Regions from separate parts of the Homo sapiens genome. Here region 2 is linked to region 1. Evidence: fine-mapped expression QTL. Tissue or cell type: subcutaneous fat. Region 1 holds a variant in brackets; the other region holds the start of a gene. All regions are shown on one strand. Distances are between the middles of the regions.

What was found. PIP is the estimated chance that this variant, and not a neighbour inherited with it, causes the effect.
Region 2: DCLRE1C starts here. The variant in region 1 is fine-mapped to the expression of DCLRE1C in subcutaneous fat (GTEx, PIP above 0.99). The same link has a PIP of 0.9 or more in prefrontal cortex, putamen and tibial nerve.

What each region holds. Positions count from the first base shown.
Region 1 is chr10:14,907,439-14,915,438 of GRCh38, reverse strand. It overlaps DCLRE1C (DNA cross-link repair 1C), which reads left to right. Exons shown (of 14, transcript NM_001033855.3): 14 at 6,109-8,000. The coding sequence ends at 7,031. Among named protein-coding and RNA genes, the nearest start is that of SUV39H2, 33 kb to the right of the region's middle. The variant T/G (reference allele first, on the strand shown) is at 4,646.
Region 2 is chr10:14,949,747-14,959,142 of GRCh38, reverse strand. It overlaps DCLRE1C (DNA cross-link repair 1C), which reads left to right and starts at 5,047. Exons shown (of 14, transcript NM_001033855.3): 1 at 5,047-5,241. The coding sequence starts at 5,133. It also overlaps a transcript of MEIG1 not described here. RefSeq lists a silencer at 4,856-4,935 and enhancers at 4,954-5,681, 5,682-6,410.

The sequences.
Region 1 (8,000 bases):
AGTAGTTTGTGTCTTCTCTCATTTTTTTCTTGATTAGTCTAGCTAGAGGTTTACCAGTTTTACTGATCTTCTCAAATAAGAAGTTTTTGGTTTTATTTTCATTTTCTCTCTTTTTTGTTTTTTTGGCACGGGGTAGTTTTCTATTTCATTGAATTCCACTCTGATCTTTATCTGCTTACTTGGAATTTTATTTGCTTTTCATTTTTAAGTTTCTTAATATGGAAGCTGAGGTCGTTGATTTGAGACCTTATTTTCTAATGTAGGCATTTAGTGCTATAATTTTCCCTCTTTAGCAGCATCCCATAAATTTGTCTTGTTTTCATTGTCATTCAAAACATTTTTAAATTTTTCCTTTGACTTTTTTTCTTTGACACATGGGTTATTTAGAAATTTGTTACTAGTTTCTGAATTTTGGAGGACTTCCCAGGGATTATTCTGTTATCTAAATTAATGTTATTGTGGTTAGAGAACATACTTTGTATGATTTTTTTTTTTTTTAATGAGATGGATTCTCTCTGTTCCCCAGGCTGGAGTGCAGTCACACAATCTTGGCTCATTGCAACCTCTGCCTCCCAGGTTCAAGTGATTCTCCTGTGTCAGCATCCGAAGTAGCTGGAATTACAGGCTCACGCCACCATACCTGGCTAATGTTTTGTATTTTTAGTAGCCACAGGGTTTTGCCATGTTGGCCAGGCTGGTCTCAAACTCCTGACCTCAGGTGATCCACCTGCCTCCCAAAATGTTGGGATTACAGGCGTGAGCCACCACACCTGGCCTGGTACTTTTGAAATTTATGGTCCAGAATATTTACGGACCATCAATTGTGGACCAATTTACACATTAAACCTGGTAAATGTTTAATGTGTACTTCAAAGAAATATATGTACTACTGTTGTTGGATGAAGTGTTCTATAAATGTCAACTAGGCTAAGTTAGTTGACAATGTTGTTCAGGTCTTCTACATTCTTGTTCTATCAATTATTGCCAGAGAGGGGTGTTGCAATCTCCAGTTGTAATTGTGGACTTGCCTATTTTGCCTTGATTAGTTCTATTGGCATTTGCTTCATCTATTTGAGGCACTATTAATAGGTATACACAAGTTTAAGATTCTTATATCCTCTTGAGGGATTGATACCTTTATCTTTAGGAAATGAGTCTATCCCCTGGTAACATTCTTAGTTCTACAATCTACTAGAGCCATTTGAATTTCTTCTCATTAATATTGGCTTGATGTATCTTTTTCCATCTCTGTATTTTTAACTAGTCTTTATATTTAAAGTGGGTTTCTTGTAAGCAGTATGTTGTTGGATGTTTTTATGGCCAACCTGGTATTTTCTGGCTTTTAATTGCAGTGCTTAGTCCACTTAGTTTAATGGTACCCATTGATATGGTCAGGTTTAAGTTTATCCTCTTGCTATTTGTTCCATTTGTTCTTTATTCTTTTTTGGCCTTCTTTCAGGTCAAGTAATTACTGACTGATTCTGTTTAATCTCTTGTTGGGTTATTGGCTGTGTAACTCACTGATTTCTTATTTTAGTGGCTTATAATGCAGTCATCCCTTAGTATCCTTGGGGGATTGGTTCCAGGACCCCCCCAAGAGTACCAAAATCTGCAGATGCTCAAGTCATATTAAATGGTGTTACATTTGCATATAACCTACACATATCCTCCCATATACTTAAAATCATCTCTGGATTACTTATACCTAATACAGTGTAAATGCTTGGTAACTAGTTGTTATACTGTATCAATTTTTGTGTTTTTTGTATTTTAATTTTTGCTTTTTTCCAAATATGTTTGATCTGTGGTCAGTCAAATCTACAGATGTGGAACCTGTGGATACAGAGGACTGACCGTATACATCTTTAACATATCAGAGTGAAAAGATAAATGATATATTACTCCAAATATGGTATAGGAATGTTCCAGCAGTATATTTCCATTCCTCTTCTCCCAGTCTGTGCTGTTATTGTCATACATTCTCTGTTATTAACTTTATAAACTCCACAATACAAAATTATTTTTTAAGCTTTATTGAAGTATAATTGATACACCATAAATTCATCCATTATAGGTGAACAATTCCACGACTGTTAGTATAACAGAATTGTACAATCATCCCCACTATCTAATTTTGGAACATTTTTTGTTACCCAAAAAAGAAACTTTATGTCTATTTCCAGTCACTCCCCATTACTATTCCCGGCCTTAGGCCGCAACTAATCTATGGTTTGTCTCTATAGATTTGTGTTTTCTGGACACTTCATATAAGAGAACTCATATGGCCAGGCACAGTGGCTCGCGCCTGTAATCCCAGCACTTTGGGAGGCCAAGGCAGGTGGATCATGAGGTCAGAGAGATCGAGACCATCCTGGCTAACACGGTGAAACCCCGTCTCTACTAAAAACACAAAAAATTAGCCAGGTGTGGTGGCGGGCGCCTGTAGTCCCAGCTATTGGCCAGGCACAGTGGCTCACGCCTGTAATCCCAGCACTTTGGGAGGCCAAGGCGGGTGGATCATGTGGTCAGAGAGATCGAGACCATCCTGGCTAACACGGTGAAACCCCGTCTCTACTAAAAACACAAAAAATTAGCCAGGTGTGGTGGCGGGCACCTGTAGTCCCAGCTATTAGGGCAGCGGAGGCAGAATGGCGTGAACCCAGGAGGCAGAGCTTGCAGTGAGATCACACCACTGCACTCCAGTGTGGGCGACAGAGCGAGACTCTGTCTCAAAAAGAAAAAAAAGAAATTATACACCATGTGCTATTTTGTGCCTGGCTTTTATTTCGCATTATCTTTTCAAGGTACATCTATACTGTGGCATATATCAGTATTTCATACCTTTTTATTGCCAACCAATATTCAATTGTACAGGCATACAACATTTTATTTATCCACTCACCAGCTGATGGACATCTGGGTTGCTTCTCCTTTTTAAATAATAATGCTATGAAAATTTGAGTACAAGTCTTTACGTATCTTTCTGTTGGGTTTTATTTCTTGTGGGGGGTAGAATTTTGGAGTCATATAGTTGGCTTGGGCTGCCCTAAGAAAATAACACATACTAGGTAGCTTAAACAGGAGGCCAGGCATAGTGGCTCACGCCTATAATCCCAGCACTTTGGGAGGCCGAGGCGGATGGATCACCTGAGATCAGGAGTTCAAGACCAACCTGGCCAACATGGTGAAAACTTGTCTCTGCTTAAAAAAAAAGTAAAAATTAGGCTGGGCACAGTGGCTCAAGCCTGTAATTCTAGCACTTAGGCAGATCAAGTCTCCAGCCTTATGATGGTTTAATTATTTCCCTAGAGGTCCATCTCTAGATAACAGCCACACTGGCTTTAGGGCTTCCACATATGAATTTTGACAGGAAGCGTTCAGTTCATAACATATGGTCAATCTGTTTTAACACTCCAAGGAACTGCCAAACATTCCCACACTGAATACATTTTACATTCTCTCCGGCAATATGTAAAGATTCCAGTTCCTTCACATATTAGCCAACACTTCCGTCTTTTTTAGTATAGCCATCCTAGTGTATGGTGGTACCCTGCAGTTTTGATTTGCATTTCTCTAATGACTAATGTTGAGCTTTCTTTCATGTGCTTATTGGCCATTTATGTAACTTCTTCAGTGAAATGTCTATTCTGATCTTTTGCCCCCATTTCAACTGGATTATTGACCTTTGTATTGAGTTGTAAGAGTTAAAGTCTGGTATCAGTCCTTTATCTGACATGATTAGGAAATATTTTCTCAGACTTGTCTTTTCACCTTCTTGATGGTGTCTTGAAGCGTAAAGGTTTTAAGTTAAATTTGTCTATTTTTTTCTTTTATTGCATATGCTTTGGTGTCATATCTAAGAAACTATTTGATCCAAGATCATGAAAATTGACTCCCATGTTACATAATTTTACAGTCAGTTTTGACTGTATCTTCCTGCTTCTTGAATTTCTGATAATTTGTTTTTGAATGCCATACATTCTGAATTTTACCTTTTTAGGTCCTGCATAATTTTGGGATTTCTAAAAACATTCTTGAGCTTTGTTCTGGCATGTGGTTAGCATGTTTATAGTTTGATCTTTTCGTGTCTTTTACCTTTGTTATGCAGGAACAGAGTAGCATTTAGTATATGGTTAATTTTCCCCACTACTGAGGCAAGGCTCTTCTTGGTTCTTTTACAAATGCCCATGGATCATGAGGTTTTCCACTCTGGCTGTTGGGACCAGGACAAGACACTGTTCCTGGCACGGTGAGTTCTGGGCACTTTCTTTCCTTTTGTTTGAGTGATTCGTTGCCTGGCTGCAGGTAGTTTCCTTACAAGCACATGCTGCTTAGTGCACTGAACACGTGGTGGGGACGCCTCTGCAGCTTTTCAGAGTTTCTGTGCAGCACTCTCCTCTCTGGTCTTCTGCTCTGTAAACTCCAGGTACATTTATTTCTTCAATGTTCCACTTCCACCTCACATCAAGGATGTCCATGGGCTCTATCCAGATGTTCCCTCCCTGACTGGAATCTGTTATGAAGCAGGGAGTCAGGCAATCATAGGACTCATCTGTGTCTTATTTCTCATGTCATTGTCCTTAATTGCTCGATGTCCATTTTCTTGAGAGATAGTTTCTGATTTTTCGTTATTTCAAGTGGGAGG[T/G]TAAATCTAGTCCGTTACTCCATCTTACCTGGAAGCAAAAGTCCTTTCTTCCTTTAATCTTTTGTGCCTTTTATGCATCTACCCAATCCACACTCCTTTTTGATAAATGTCTTTTGGGATCAGGCATAGTCACTGATTTGGAATGCAGAACTGTTCAACTTAGAGATCATACAAAAATATTTCATAAAAAGGTAATTTTGGGCTAGGCAAAGTGGCTCATGCCTCTAATTCCAGCAATTTGGGAGGCCGAGGGGGTGGATTGCCTGAGTGCAGGAGTTCAAAACCAACCTGGGCAACAAGGGGAAACACTGTCTAAAAAAAATTAGCTGGGCATGGGGGTGGATCTCCTGAGCCTGAGAGGTAGAGGCTGAACTGTGACTGTATAAAACTCAAAAAACAACTTTGGCATAGTAGTGAGGGACCTAAAACATACATATGATCTTTGGCTTAAAATCTACATTCTGCAGTCTAGGATGATTCCAAATACAGTCGTTAGATATCTTAGTGACCTTAAGCCCTAAGTTCAGTTACAAGTCATAACACTGAACCTTTAAGAATGAGGTTGGGTCGTGTGTATTGGCACACCCTTTTCTCTGGGCCTAGCTTCACACGGGGAACATGGGAGCTGGATAATGGTCTCTATGGTCCTTTATATTAGTGTCTTAAAAATGCAGTGTTTAGCCACATCATTTAAGTGGATTATTATAACACCAGATTCAGCAGTAGAACAAGAAGTTGCCATACACAGTAGTCTTGGGTGCATTTAACTTTCTTCCTAGGTTAGATACTGTTACAAGATGGGAAAATATTTGTTTTTCTAAGTAAGGCTTTTTTCATTTTAAGAACATTTGTTGACACAGCATGCTTATTAATGTTTTGAATTTTAAGTTCTTGACACGTTGATTATTCAGTATTTTGCTTTAAAGTTGATTTAACCTGTTGCAACCTTGTGCATAAAACATGTCAATAAGATGCTCACAGAAGAAAAACCTTAATAAAAAGCAATTTAATTTTCCTAAGTCAGCCAACCCACTGAGCATCTACTATTTGCAGAGCACACAGGCTTTGCAAACCTGGCTGAACAGATATCAGCTGTAGAACTTAAAAATCAAATTATTTGGTCCTATCTTCCTCAGGGATTCAGTAGGTCTGGAATGAGATACAGAAACCTGTTTTTTTTTTTTTTCTTTTTTTGAAGTTTTGCATATGATCGTAATGATCAGCCAGGCTTACATATAGAGCAGAGTGACTGCTCTATATTCTCCACTGATACTCTGGCATTTATTATAAAAAGTTGAAGGATGGCAGTTAAATTGTTCAGCATATCCCAAGAATATCTTTTCCCTTTGAAGAAGAGTGGCCTCCCTATTCTTTGCAATTCCAAGAATTAAAAGTACAGATAAATACTACAAATTGGCTCCCTTTGCCTTGTTTCCTATAAACCTGTTTTGTTTGTCCCACAGAGGAGGAAGATGACTATCTCTTTGATGATCCTCTGCCAATACCTTTAAGGCACAAAGTTCCATACCCGGAAACTTTTCACCCTGAGGTATTTTCAATGACTGCAGTATCAGAAAAGCAGCCTGAAAAACTGAGACAAACCCCAGGATGCTGCAGAGCAGAGTGTATGCAGAGCTCTCGTTTCACAAACTTTGTAGATTGTGAAGAATCCAACAGTGAAAGTGAAGAAGAAGTAGGAATCCCAGCTTCACTGCAAGGAGATCTGGGCTCTGTACTTCACCTGCAAAAGGCTGATGGGGATGTACCCCAGTGGGAAGTATTCTTTAAAAGAAATGATGAAATCACAGATGAGAGTTTGGAAAACTTCCCTTCCTCCACAGTGGCAGGGGGATCTCAGTCACCAAAGCTTTTCAGTGACTCTGATGGAGAATCAACTCACATCTCCTCCCAGAATTCTTCCCAGTCAACACACATAACAGAACAAGGAAGTCAAGGCTGGGACAGCCAATCTGATACTGTTTTGTTATCTTCCCAAGAGAGAAACAGTGGGGATATTACTTCCTTGGACAAAGCTGACTACAGACCAACAATCAAAGAGAATATTCCTGCCTCTCTCATGGAACAAAATGTAATTTGCCCAAAGGATACTTACTCTGATTTGAAAAGCAGAGATAAAGATGTGACAATAGTTCCTAGTACTGGAGAACCAACTACTCTAAGCAGTGAGACACATATACCCGAGGAAAAAAGTTTGCTAAATCTTAGCACAAATGCAGATTCCCAGAGCTCTTCTGATTTTGAAGTTCCCTCAACTCCAGAAGCTGAGTTACCTAAACGAGAGCATTTACAATATTTATATGAGAAGCTGGCAACTGGTGAGAGTATAGCAGTCAAAAAAAGAAAATGCTCACTCTTAGATACCTAAGAATTCAAAGCGTTTCAACCTAGAGCAACCACTAAAAAACCTGCACAGAGATGACAGTCAATATTACAATAGAGAAAATACAGTACTTAAAAATGTTCAAATAACCTGGTTGGGTGTGGTGGCTCACACTTGTAATCCCAGCACTTTGAGGTGGGCAATGGCTTGAGCCCAGGAGTTCGACACCAGCCTGGCCAACACAGTGAAATGTGTCTCTACTTACAAAAAAAAAAAAAAAAAAAAAAGCCAGGCATGGTGGTGGGCTACTCTGGAGGCCCTTGAGGATCACTTGAGCCCAGGAGATTGAGGCTGCAGTGAGCCATGACTGTGCCACTGCACCTCTAGTCTGGGTGACAGAGCAAGACCCTGTTTAAAAAAGAAAAAGGCCAGGCACGGTGGCTCATGCCTGTAATCCCAGCTACGCAGGAGGCCAAGGCAGGAGAATCACTTGAACCTGGGAGGTGGTGGTTGCAGTGAGCTGAGATTGTGTCATTGCACTCCAGCCTGGGCAACAAGAGCAAAACTCTGTCTCAAAAAAAAAAAAAAAAAAAAAGAAAAAAAAATGGTAGAACTAAACCCATACGTATCAATGATTACATTAAATGTAAATGGTCTAAGTGCATCAATGACAAGAGACACGGAAAAAACCAACATAACCCAGTGATCTGCTGTCTATAAAGAAAGTCAATTCAAGTGATTGATAGGTTAAAAGGATGGAAAAACCATGTAAACAATTAAAAATGGAGTGGTTATATGGACAGTTTCCTAATGATAAAAGGTCTAGTTCACCAAGAAGACAAAATAATCCTAAACGTATATGCACCTAACAGCTCCAAAAATTTATGAAGCTAGAACAGCTGAAAAGAGACAAACTAATGCACAATTACAGCTAGGGATTAATTTAACATCCCTCCTTAGTAACAGAACTAGTATATACACATTAATCAGTAAGAATATAGAACTGAAAATCAT
Region 2 (9,396 bases), 43 kb before region 1:
ATCACAGCACGGAGACTGTGTTTGTAGTTCCTGATAGTAGATATCTCCTATCTATTCATTTGCGAGGAATGAACCATTCCAGAGAGTCGCCATAGTGCCTGACAATCAGTAAACCTACAATAGATGATATCTATAGCTTTAATTATTTTTTCTAGCATTATCTATTACTATATTACAGTACTATCTAAGCGAAAAGTGATCAGATTCAAGATATACGGTTTTTTGTTTTTTTGTTTTTGTTTTTTTTTAGACGGAGTCTCGCTCCGTCGCCCAGGCTGGAGTGCAGTGGTGCTATCTCGGCTCACTGCAAGCTCCGCCTCCCGGGTTCACGCCATTCTCCTGCCTCAGCCTCCCGAGTAGCTGGGACTACAGGCACCCACCACCACGCCTGGCTAATTTTTTGTATTTTTAGTAGAGACGGGGTTTCACCGTGTTAGCCAGGATGATCTCGATCTCCTGACCTCGTCATCCACCCGCCTCGGCCTCCCAAAGAGCTGGGATTACAGGCGTGAGCCACCGCGCCCGGCCAATTTACATGTTTTGAATGTAGAGCCATCAGGACTTGTCAAATTGTTGAATGAAAGAAAGGAGCAATTGTGTGCTGGAGCCAGCTCATTAGAGCTCTGGAGACTCAGTAATTAAATTTTTAGGAATTTTTCTGAGCTCGTTGTTAAATACAAGCCATGAGCTGGAGTCAATGAAGATGACAAGGGCCTCGGGCACCTGCCCCAAACAAAACAAAAACACAAGACATATCACAAATTAAATTATATAAACTTCTAAATAAACGAGTCATACTAAAACAAAGGCAATACTTAGTAAAACTAAAAACAAAAAACTATTTACTTACAACTCCCAAATTTCTCTCTTCAGCCCGGTCTTTCTCTGAACTTTAGATTTGTATATCAATGTATATTCAACATCCACTTGATTGTACAAAACAACCTCCCCAAACACCTCCCTGCCAAAACAAAAACAAAAACCCTGCTCCTTCTTCATGTCTTTTAGTAGATGTGGCCTAGAGCCCTCTCTTTCCATATCCATCAATGCAACCTGCTGACTTTATAGCTTCTACTCAAGCCATCATAATTTTTCTTTTTTCTGGTAATTACAACCGTTCCCAACAGCTCTCTATGCCCCCTCTGTAGTCTGTTGTCAACACAACAGTCAATGCAATCTGTTTAAAACCTAAGTCAAGGCCGGGCGCGGTGGCTCACACCTGTAATCCCAGCACTTTGGGAGGCTGAGGTGGGCAGATCACGAGGTCAGGAGTTCGAGACCAGCCTGGCCAATATGGTGAAACCCTTTCTCTACTAAAAATACAAAAGAACTAGCTGGGAGTGGTGGCGTGCACCTGTAGTCCCAGCTACTCGGGAGGCTGAGGCAGGAGAATCGCTTGAACCCAGGAGGTGGAGGTGGAGGTGGAGGTGGCAGTGAGCCGAGATTGCGTCACTGCACTCCAGCCTGGGCATAGAGGGAGACTCCGTCTCAAAGAAAACAAAACAAAAAAACCTAAGTCAAATTATGTCAGTCCTCTGCTCACAACCCTGCAATGGCTTCCCATCTTATGGAGAGTGAAAACCAGAGGCTATACATGGTGAGCAAAGCCCTGTAAGATTTGCTCACAACACCCTCCCTCCTTCCTCTGTAGCCCCGGATCATTCTGCTGCAGCCACACTGGCCTAACACTGCCTAGCACACAGTAGGTGCTAAAGGGATATATTTTGAATCAGTATATTTCATCACTGCCCTTCCGATGCTGTGGAGGCAGCATGGCACGGTGGCTAGCAGTGTGTTGTCAGAGAGCACAGTGTCTAAAAGTGTGGTGGCCTTCTTGGATTTAAATCTGAGCTCTACTTACTATCAACATGACCCTGGACAAGCTACTTAACCTCCGTATCCTCAACTGGCAAATGAGGACAGAAAGTGTACCTATCTGATGGGCAGGTAGGATGTGAGGATGAAATAATGAGTATAAAACACTGATAACATCTGGAACTACATAAATGGTAGACAGTAATTACTTGCATTAGAAGGTACACTCCCACGTCCACAGGGATTTTTGTCTGCTTTTTTAGTTTTATTTTTTTGAGACAGGGTCTCTTTTGTCGTCTAGACTGGAGTGCAGTGGTGCCATCTTGGCTCACTGCAATCTCTGCCTCCAGGTTCAAGTGATTCTTGTGCCTCAGCTCCCAAGTAGTTGTTATTGTAGGTGTACCACCACACCCGGCTAATTCTTTTTGCATCTTTAGTAGAGCTGGGGTTTTGTCATGTTGGTCTTTAACTCCTGGCCTCAAGTGATCCACCTGCCTTGGCCTCCCAAAGTGCTGAGATTACAGGCAGGAGCCACCAGGATGGGCCACATTTTTTGTCTACTTTGCTCACTACTGTATCTTTAGTGTCTAAAATAGTGTCTGATACACAGTAGATGGTCAGTGAATGATTTGCTGAATGAATTAAGCTTCACCATCACATTTCCTGCAGTATTGCAGCAGCTTCCTACCTGAATTCCTGCCCCAGACTTCTTGAGTGTTGTGTTTTTTTGTTTTGTTTTGCTTTCGAGATGGAGTTTCGCTCTTGTTGCCCAGGCTGGAGTGCCATGGTCCAATCTCGGCTCAGTGCAATTTCCGCATCCTGGGTACAAGCAATTCTCCTGCCTCAGCCTCCTGAGTAGCTGGGATTACAGGCCCCTGACTCCATGCCTGGCTATTTTTTTTTTTATTTTTAGTAGAGACGGGGTTTCCCCATGTTGGTCAGGCTGGTCTCGAACTCCTGACCTCGGGTGATCCACCTGCGTCGGCCTCCCAAAGTGTTGGGATTATAGGCATGAGCCACCACACTGGCCCTGAATGTTCTTTAGACTCGAATCCAGTGGTTCTCAAACTTTAGGGTCCATCAGAATCACCTAGAAGGTGTGTTAAGCTGCAAACTGCCAGGCCCCACTCTCCCAGAGTTTCTGATTCACTAGGTTTGGTCTGGGCTATGCTTACCTATCTTGCCTATTTTCTATCCTGTCTTTCTCTTTGTCCTGACTCTATTTCCCTTTGTTTGTACTGTATCCATTGTGGAAAGAGGAGGAGATAAATAAGTGAGCAAATACATAAGATCACGAGCATTAACTTGACCTGCCTTTCCTGGAGCTCTACCGTGAGATTCTTCGGACACTAGACTCACAGCAGAATTTGTTGTTAGGTCTCCATAACCCTGCCAGGGCAGTTGTTCCCATGTGTTCTAAGACAAACCATCAAAGGTGTTGCCAGTAGTATACTAGCAGGATATTTTACCTCAATTAGTGATTATGTTGTGTATACCTTTCCATGTCACCCCTCCTCCCCCTCCTCAAGATTTCATGGAAATCTGTATTTGAATAGAACTCTGAGTATCATGGCTACAGGCACAAGCTGACATTCACTAGGGATGTCATTCTGTTTTGTTTTGTTTTTTTGAGACAGAGTCTCTCTCTGTTGCCCAGGCTGGAGTGAACTGGCATGATCTAGGCTCACTGCAACCTCCGCCTCCCAGGTTCAAGTGATTCTCCTGCCTCGGCCTCCCGAGTAGCTGGAGATGTGTGCCACCATGCCCGGCCGATTTTTGTATTTTTAGTAGAGATGGGGTTTCACCATGTTGTCCAGGCTGGTCCTGAACTCCTGACCTCAGGTGATCACCTGCCTCAGCCCTCCAAAGTGCTGGGATTACAGGCATGAGCCACTGAGGTGGGCTGGGATGGCATTCTGATTCCTGATTTCCCTGGTCAGAAATCTTTGTTCCTGGATTTGTTCTCACGTTACCTTGCGTCTCTGTGGAAGCATTTATTTGCCATATTCTGCAAACATGTTGTCGCCAGATAGATTGAATGCTACCCGAAGGTTTGTCACAGTGCTGTGCACAAAGTGGGACTTCAAGTGTTATGGAGGCCTGGAAAGCCAGGTACAATGGCTCACCCAGCACTTTGGGAGGCCGAGGCGAGCGGATCGCATGAGGCCAGGAGCTCGAGACCAGCCTGGTCAACGTGGTGAAACCCCGTCTCTGCTAAAAATATAAAAATGAGCCAGGCGTGGCGGCGCGTGCCTGTAGTCCCAGCTACTCTGGAGGCTGAGGCAGGAGAATCGCCTGAACCCGGGAGGCGGAGGTTGCAGAGAGCCGAAATCACGCCACTGCACTCCAGCCTGGGCGATAGAACTAGACCCCAACTGAATAAATAAATAAAATAAAGCGAAAGTGTTCTGGGTTGTTTGTGTTTAATTATACTAAGGAGATTTGATAGGAAGGAGCACAATAAATGTCATGGTGATTATTTGGTTTATTGTAATACAATAAAGGAAATACAATAAAAGGTTTAACAAACCTTTTCATAAAGTTGCTTTGGTTGTTAAAAAATTTTAGACCTTTCCTGCCATTTTTCTTTTTTTAAGTACATCATTCTAACTTCCTAAAAGTATAGCTCAAAAAGGTGGGGGCCCAGGGGAGAGGCCAGCAGCGAAGGCATTATTGGGATCTTATTTGCCCCAAGATCACGCAGAGATGATTTATTCAGTTTGTAGATTATATAAACGGAAGAGGGAATTAATAGTTCCTGAATCTACCATGAGTCAGATACAAACTTTCTCATACAACCCTCACGGTAATCCCACAAGGTTAGAAATTGGGAACAGAAGAGAGAGGGCGGGGAACTGAGCTCGGGTTTCAGGCTAGCAGCAGACAAGCAGGAAGCGGAACGAAGAATGATTTCTAAGCGCAGTTCCGCAGCCCACTCACCTCGTCGGCTGGGGCCACCTGCTCTGGGAGTTTCGATTTCCCTTCCCGCGACTGCACCTCCACAGACATGGGCAACGCCTTACCAGAGCAACACCTGTGTTTGTTGGGCGGGAATGAGCCTTGCACTGGGCAGGGCTCAGGGCCCATCGCGTGCAGCGAAGCGCGGGTGATTTAAACCCAAGCAGCGGGCGCCTAGAACCCGACCGGATGCTCCTTGACTTTGCCCCCGGTCTCCGGACTCCTCTGATTGGACGTGGCTGCGTTCGGCCGCCCAATGGCGAGGCAGCGCGCGGCTTCCCGGAAGTGGCGGCGCGGTCAGGGCTGGCCTTGGCTTCAGCTGCGGTTTTGGGGTCCCGGACTCTGGGATCGGCGGCGCTATGAGTTCTTTCGAGGGGCAGATGGCCGAGTATCCAACTATCTCCATAGACCGCTTCGATAGGGAGAACCTGAGGGCCCGCGCCTACTTCCTGTCCCACTGCCACAAAGGTGAGTGAGGGCTGCGCGTCGCCCGCTCCCGGGGCGCTGGGGGCTGGAGAGAGGACAGGAGGGGGCCGGCCCTGGAGCAAGGAGCTGCAGCCTGTGGGAAGCCAGCGAGGGGGCGGCCAGCACACGCCTTGTCCCAGTCGGGCTCTTCAGCCTCTCAAAGGCTTCATCTATTTTCGGATGTGGTCAACGCGGCGTAACGGCGCCTGCCAGTTGCGCCCCGGGCCGGCTTGGTCAAGCACTGCTAGTAGTTTCTCTTGGTAGCTTTGCTGGTGGCCGATGATCAGAGATTGGCGAGGGTTAGTACTTCCCTCAGAGCCTCGCTACCATGTATGAAGAAAACAAGTTTCAGATCCATTTGACCACACCCTCAAACATTGGTCAGCAAGCAGGAGACTCAGACACACACACAACTGTGGAACAGCCCGCCTAAGAGCTCCACGAAGTGCAAGCTCCTTGGCCTTTGGGTGTTCTGTCCGTATCCAATATGAAAGTTTCGTTCTAGTTTAGGTTGGAGGGATGTTTCCCTTCTAGATGGTATCAGGCAACCTGAAAAGCTACTATGATTTCACAGCTGGATCCTTTCACAGCTGGGCCGATTTAGGGATTAAGGTTAGAGTGTCGCTGATGCTCCAAGCAGAGATTGGAGCTAAGTTCCAGAGTTTAAATACCGCTAACTTGACAACCATTGTTCATTTTCACTTCTATTGTGCTAACAAGTCACTAACTTTTACCAGGGAAAACAGTTTTAATGCTCATTGTGCTAATTCGCCCAGCCATTAGTGTTAATTGGAGAAAATGATAAACGGAATCACTGGAGTTGCTGCCTCCTGCTGTGTGGCCTTGCAGCGTGCTGGAGCAGGAAGCTCCCACTACCCTGTGGAGTCAATCAGCGTAACAAACCTATCTGTACCTGCGCAGTAGGAAAGTATTTTAAAGTAAATTACAGGTATCCAAACACAGCCTTTCCTCACAGGGTTGGTGTGAAGGCCAGCTATGTTGTTTTGTGTGTGGAATCAATCACTTGGACTATAAATCGTTGAAGTTACTGCTTCTGCGAAATGTCTCTGCTTTTTTTTTCCACAAAGCCACCAGTGATTTCTCTTTAATGGGAAAATCTGGACCTCTTCTCGTGCGTTGCCGTATTCGCATCGTGCACGTCTTTGAGCATCTCCTTCTTCTTTTTCTTTTTTTTGGAGACAGGGTCTCCCTTTGTCGCCCAGGCTGGAGTACAGTGTGGCACATGCTCTCTGCTCAAGTAGTTGGGACTACAGGAGTCAGCCACCATGCCTAGCTAATGTTTGTATTTTTATTATTATTTTGAGGTGGAGTCTCCATCACCAGGCTGGAGTGCAGTGGCGTGATCTCTGTTCACTGCAACCTCCGCCTCCTGGGTTCAAGCGATTCTCGTGCCTCAGCCTCCCAAGTAGCTGGAGTTACAGGCACGCACCACCACACCCAGGTAATTTTTGTGTTTTTAGTAGAGATGATGTTTCACCATGTTGGCCAGGCTGGTCTCGAACTCCTGGCCTCAGGTAGATCCACCCACCTCAGCCTCCCAAAGTGTTAGGATTACAGGTGTGAGCCGCTGTGCCTGACACATTTCTGGTTTTGTTTTTCATTGAGAATCCACTGCTGGACGAGGATATGCCTATTTTTACTTTTTGTGTAGAGCCGCACTGGAGTCTCTGAACTCAAAATGGGCTAGCCAGGATTAAAGTATACTTCCGAAACTTGCACTTCGTGTTTAGGATGGCTGAGTTTGGAGAAATAATAAATCTAAAGGAATTTGAAATCATCATAAGTTTGTGCATTAAGCCAGAAATGGACTCTTCCCTACTGTTGAACAGTCTATAACAACTTTTTCTGTTCTCTGACCACATGTGGATCTGCTTAGTCAACCAGGACATAAACTCATCAAGGGTGAAAACACAACTTCTGCTTTTGGAGGTTTCTCACATTGCCTTCTGTTGGCTTTTCACCTTTTTGGGACACAGGCTTCTTTGATTATGATATGGACTATCTCCACAAAATTCATATGTTGAAGCCCTAACCCCCAAAGCGACTGTATTTGGGGCTGGGGCTTTTAGGAGGAAAATAAGTTTAAGTGGGGTCCTACCGTGGTGTCCTACTCTGATAGGATTAGTTTCCTTACAAGAGAAGGAAGAGAGAGGGCGCTCTGTCCTCATGCGGGGCCTAGGAAAGCCATGTGAGTGCATAGTGAGAAGGCGGCTGTCTGTAAGTTAGGAAAAGTGCCCTCTCCAGAAACCAAATCGCCCCGCATCTTGATCTTCCCAGCTTCCTGAACTGTGAGAAATACCTTTTTGGTGTTGAAGGCAACCAAAACACTACCTTTCCTTACAGCGCTGGTGTGAAGGCCAACTATGGTATCTATGGTATCTTGTGATAGCAGCTCAAACATGAGAAACTGTATGGACTCTTTTGCTAGAAAAAATGCATGGAAACCCATCCACATCACTTCCTTTTTTTTTTTTTTTTTTTTTTTTTTTTTTTTGAGACAGGGTTTTGCTCTGTCACCCAGGCTGGAGTGCAGTGGTGCGATCTCGGCTCACTGCAGCCTTCACCTCCTGGACTCAACCAATCCTCCCACCTCAGCAAGTACTCCCACCTGAGTAGTTGGGATTACAGACATGCACCATCATGCCTGGCTAATTTTTCTATTTTTTATAGAGAGACAGGATTTCCCCATGTTGCCCAGGCTGGTATCGAACTCCTGGGTGCAGGTGATCCACTCACCTCAGCCTCCCAAAGTGCTGGGATGACAGGTGTGAGCTACCACACCCAGCCCCACATCACATTTTGATATAATTCGGAGTAGGCTATGGACCCACCTGATGCTTATTTGTGGGCCATCTGGAAGCCAATGCTGTGTGCAGGGTGGGCTTTACTAAGCATCATCAGTAAGTTCTGAAAGATGAGAGGGCCCCCCGACCCCTGAGACCTGAGATAGTGGCCCAGGGTTGGGGAAATCCCCTAGAGGGGACAATTTATGATGGTTGCCAAGGAAAAGGAAAACCTCCCTGGAAAAGCAGACCTGGGTGCAGTTCCAGCCACACAAAGCAAACCCATCCAGTTCTTGTGACTACCAGCTGGAAGGGGCCTCAGGGTGGTGAGGATGGGGGACCATGATGCACCATGCAGGGTGCTGCCTGCTTAGTCAGTGTGGGAGCAGGATGCAGAGTCTGCATTCAGCCTCCTCTTTGCCATGGCGCAAACTCTTTGGAAACTCCAATTACGGAGAATGCTGCCCAGGGATATACCCATAGGCCCTAAAAGACTGGACCAGATATCCCTTGAGGGAATTTACCCAGTGGGAGACAGGTGGACTCTCCTGGAGGCATATATACAATCAAGGGCTGCCAAGTGACATGTGGTGACTGCTCTGCTTTCACTGGGTCTAATGATGGCCACACGACATATAAATTGAGGGGGTGCTTGTGTGTGTGTGTGGTGGTGCTCGTGGTAATTAGAATTGGTTTGGTTTAGCTAAGCAATTTATTGTTCTTGTTTTTTTTTTTTTTTTTTTGGTTATTATTTATTTTTGAGATGGAGTTTCACTCTAGTTGCCCAGGCTGGAGTGCAATGGTACAATCTCAGCTCACCGCAACCTCTGCCTTCGGGGTTCAAGCAATTCTCCTATCTCAGCCTCCCAAGTAGCTGGGATTACAGCCATGCGCCACCAGCCCCAGCTAATTTTATATTTTTAGTGGAGACAGGGTATCTCCGTATTGGTCAGGCTGGTCTCGAACTCCCAACCTCAGGTGATCCGCCTGCCTCGGCCTCCCAAAGTGCTGGGGTTACAGGCATGAGCCACCGCGCCCAGCCGTTTGTTTGTTTTTGAGATGAAGTCTCACTCTGTCGCCCAGGCCGAAGTGCAGTGTTATGGCCTTGGCTCACTGCAACCTCTACCTCCCATGTTCAAGTGATTGTCCTGCCTCAGCCACCCGAGTAGCTGGGATTATAGGGGTGTGCTACTATTCATGGCTAATTTTTGTATTTTTAGTAGAGATGGGGTTTTACCATGTTGGCAAGGTTGGTCTTGAACTTCTGACCTCAGGTGATCCGCCTACGTCGGCCTCCCAAAGTGTTGGGATTACAGGCAAGAGCCACCATGTCCAACTGGTTTAGTTAAACAAT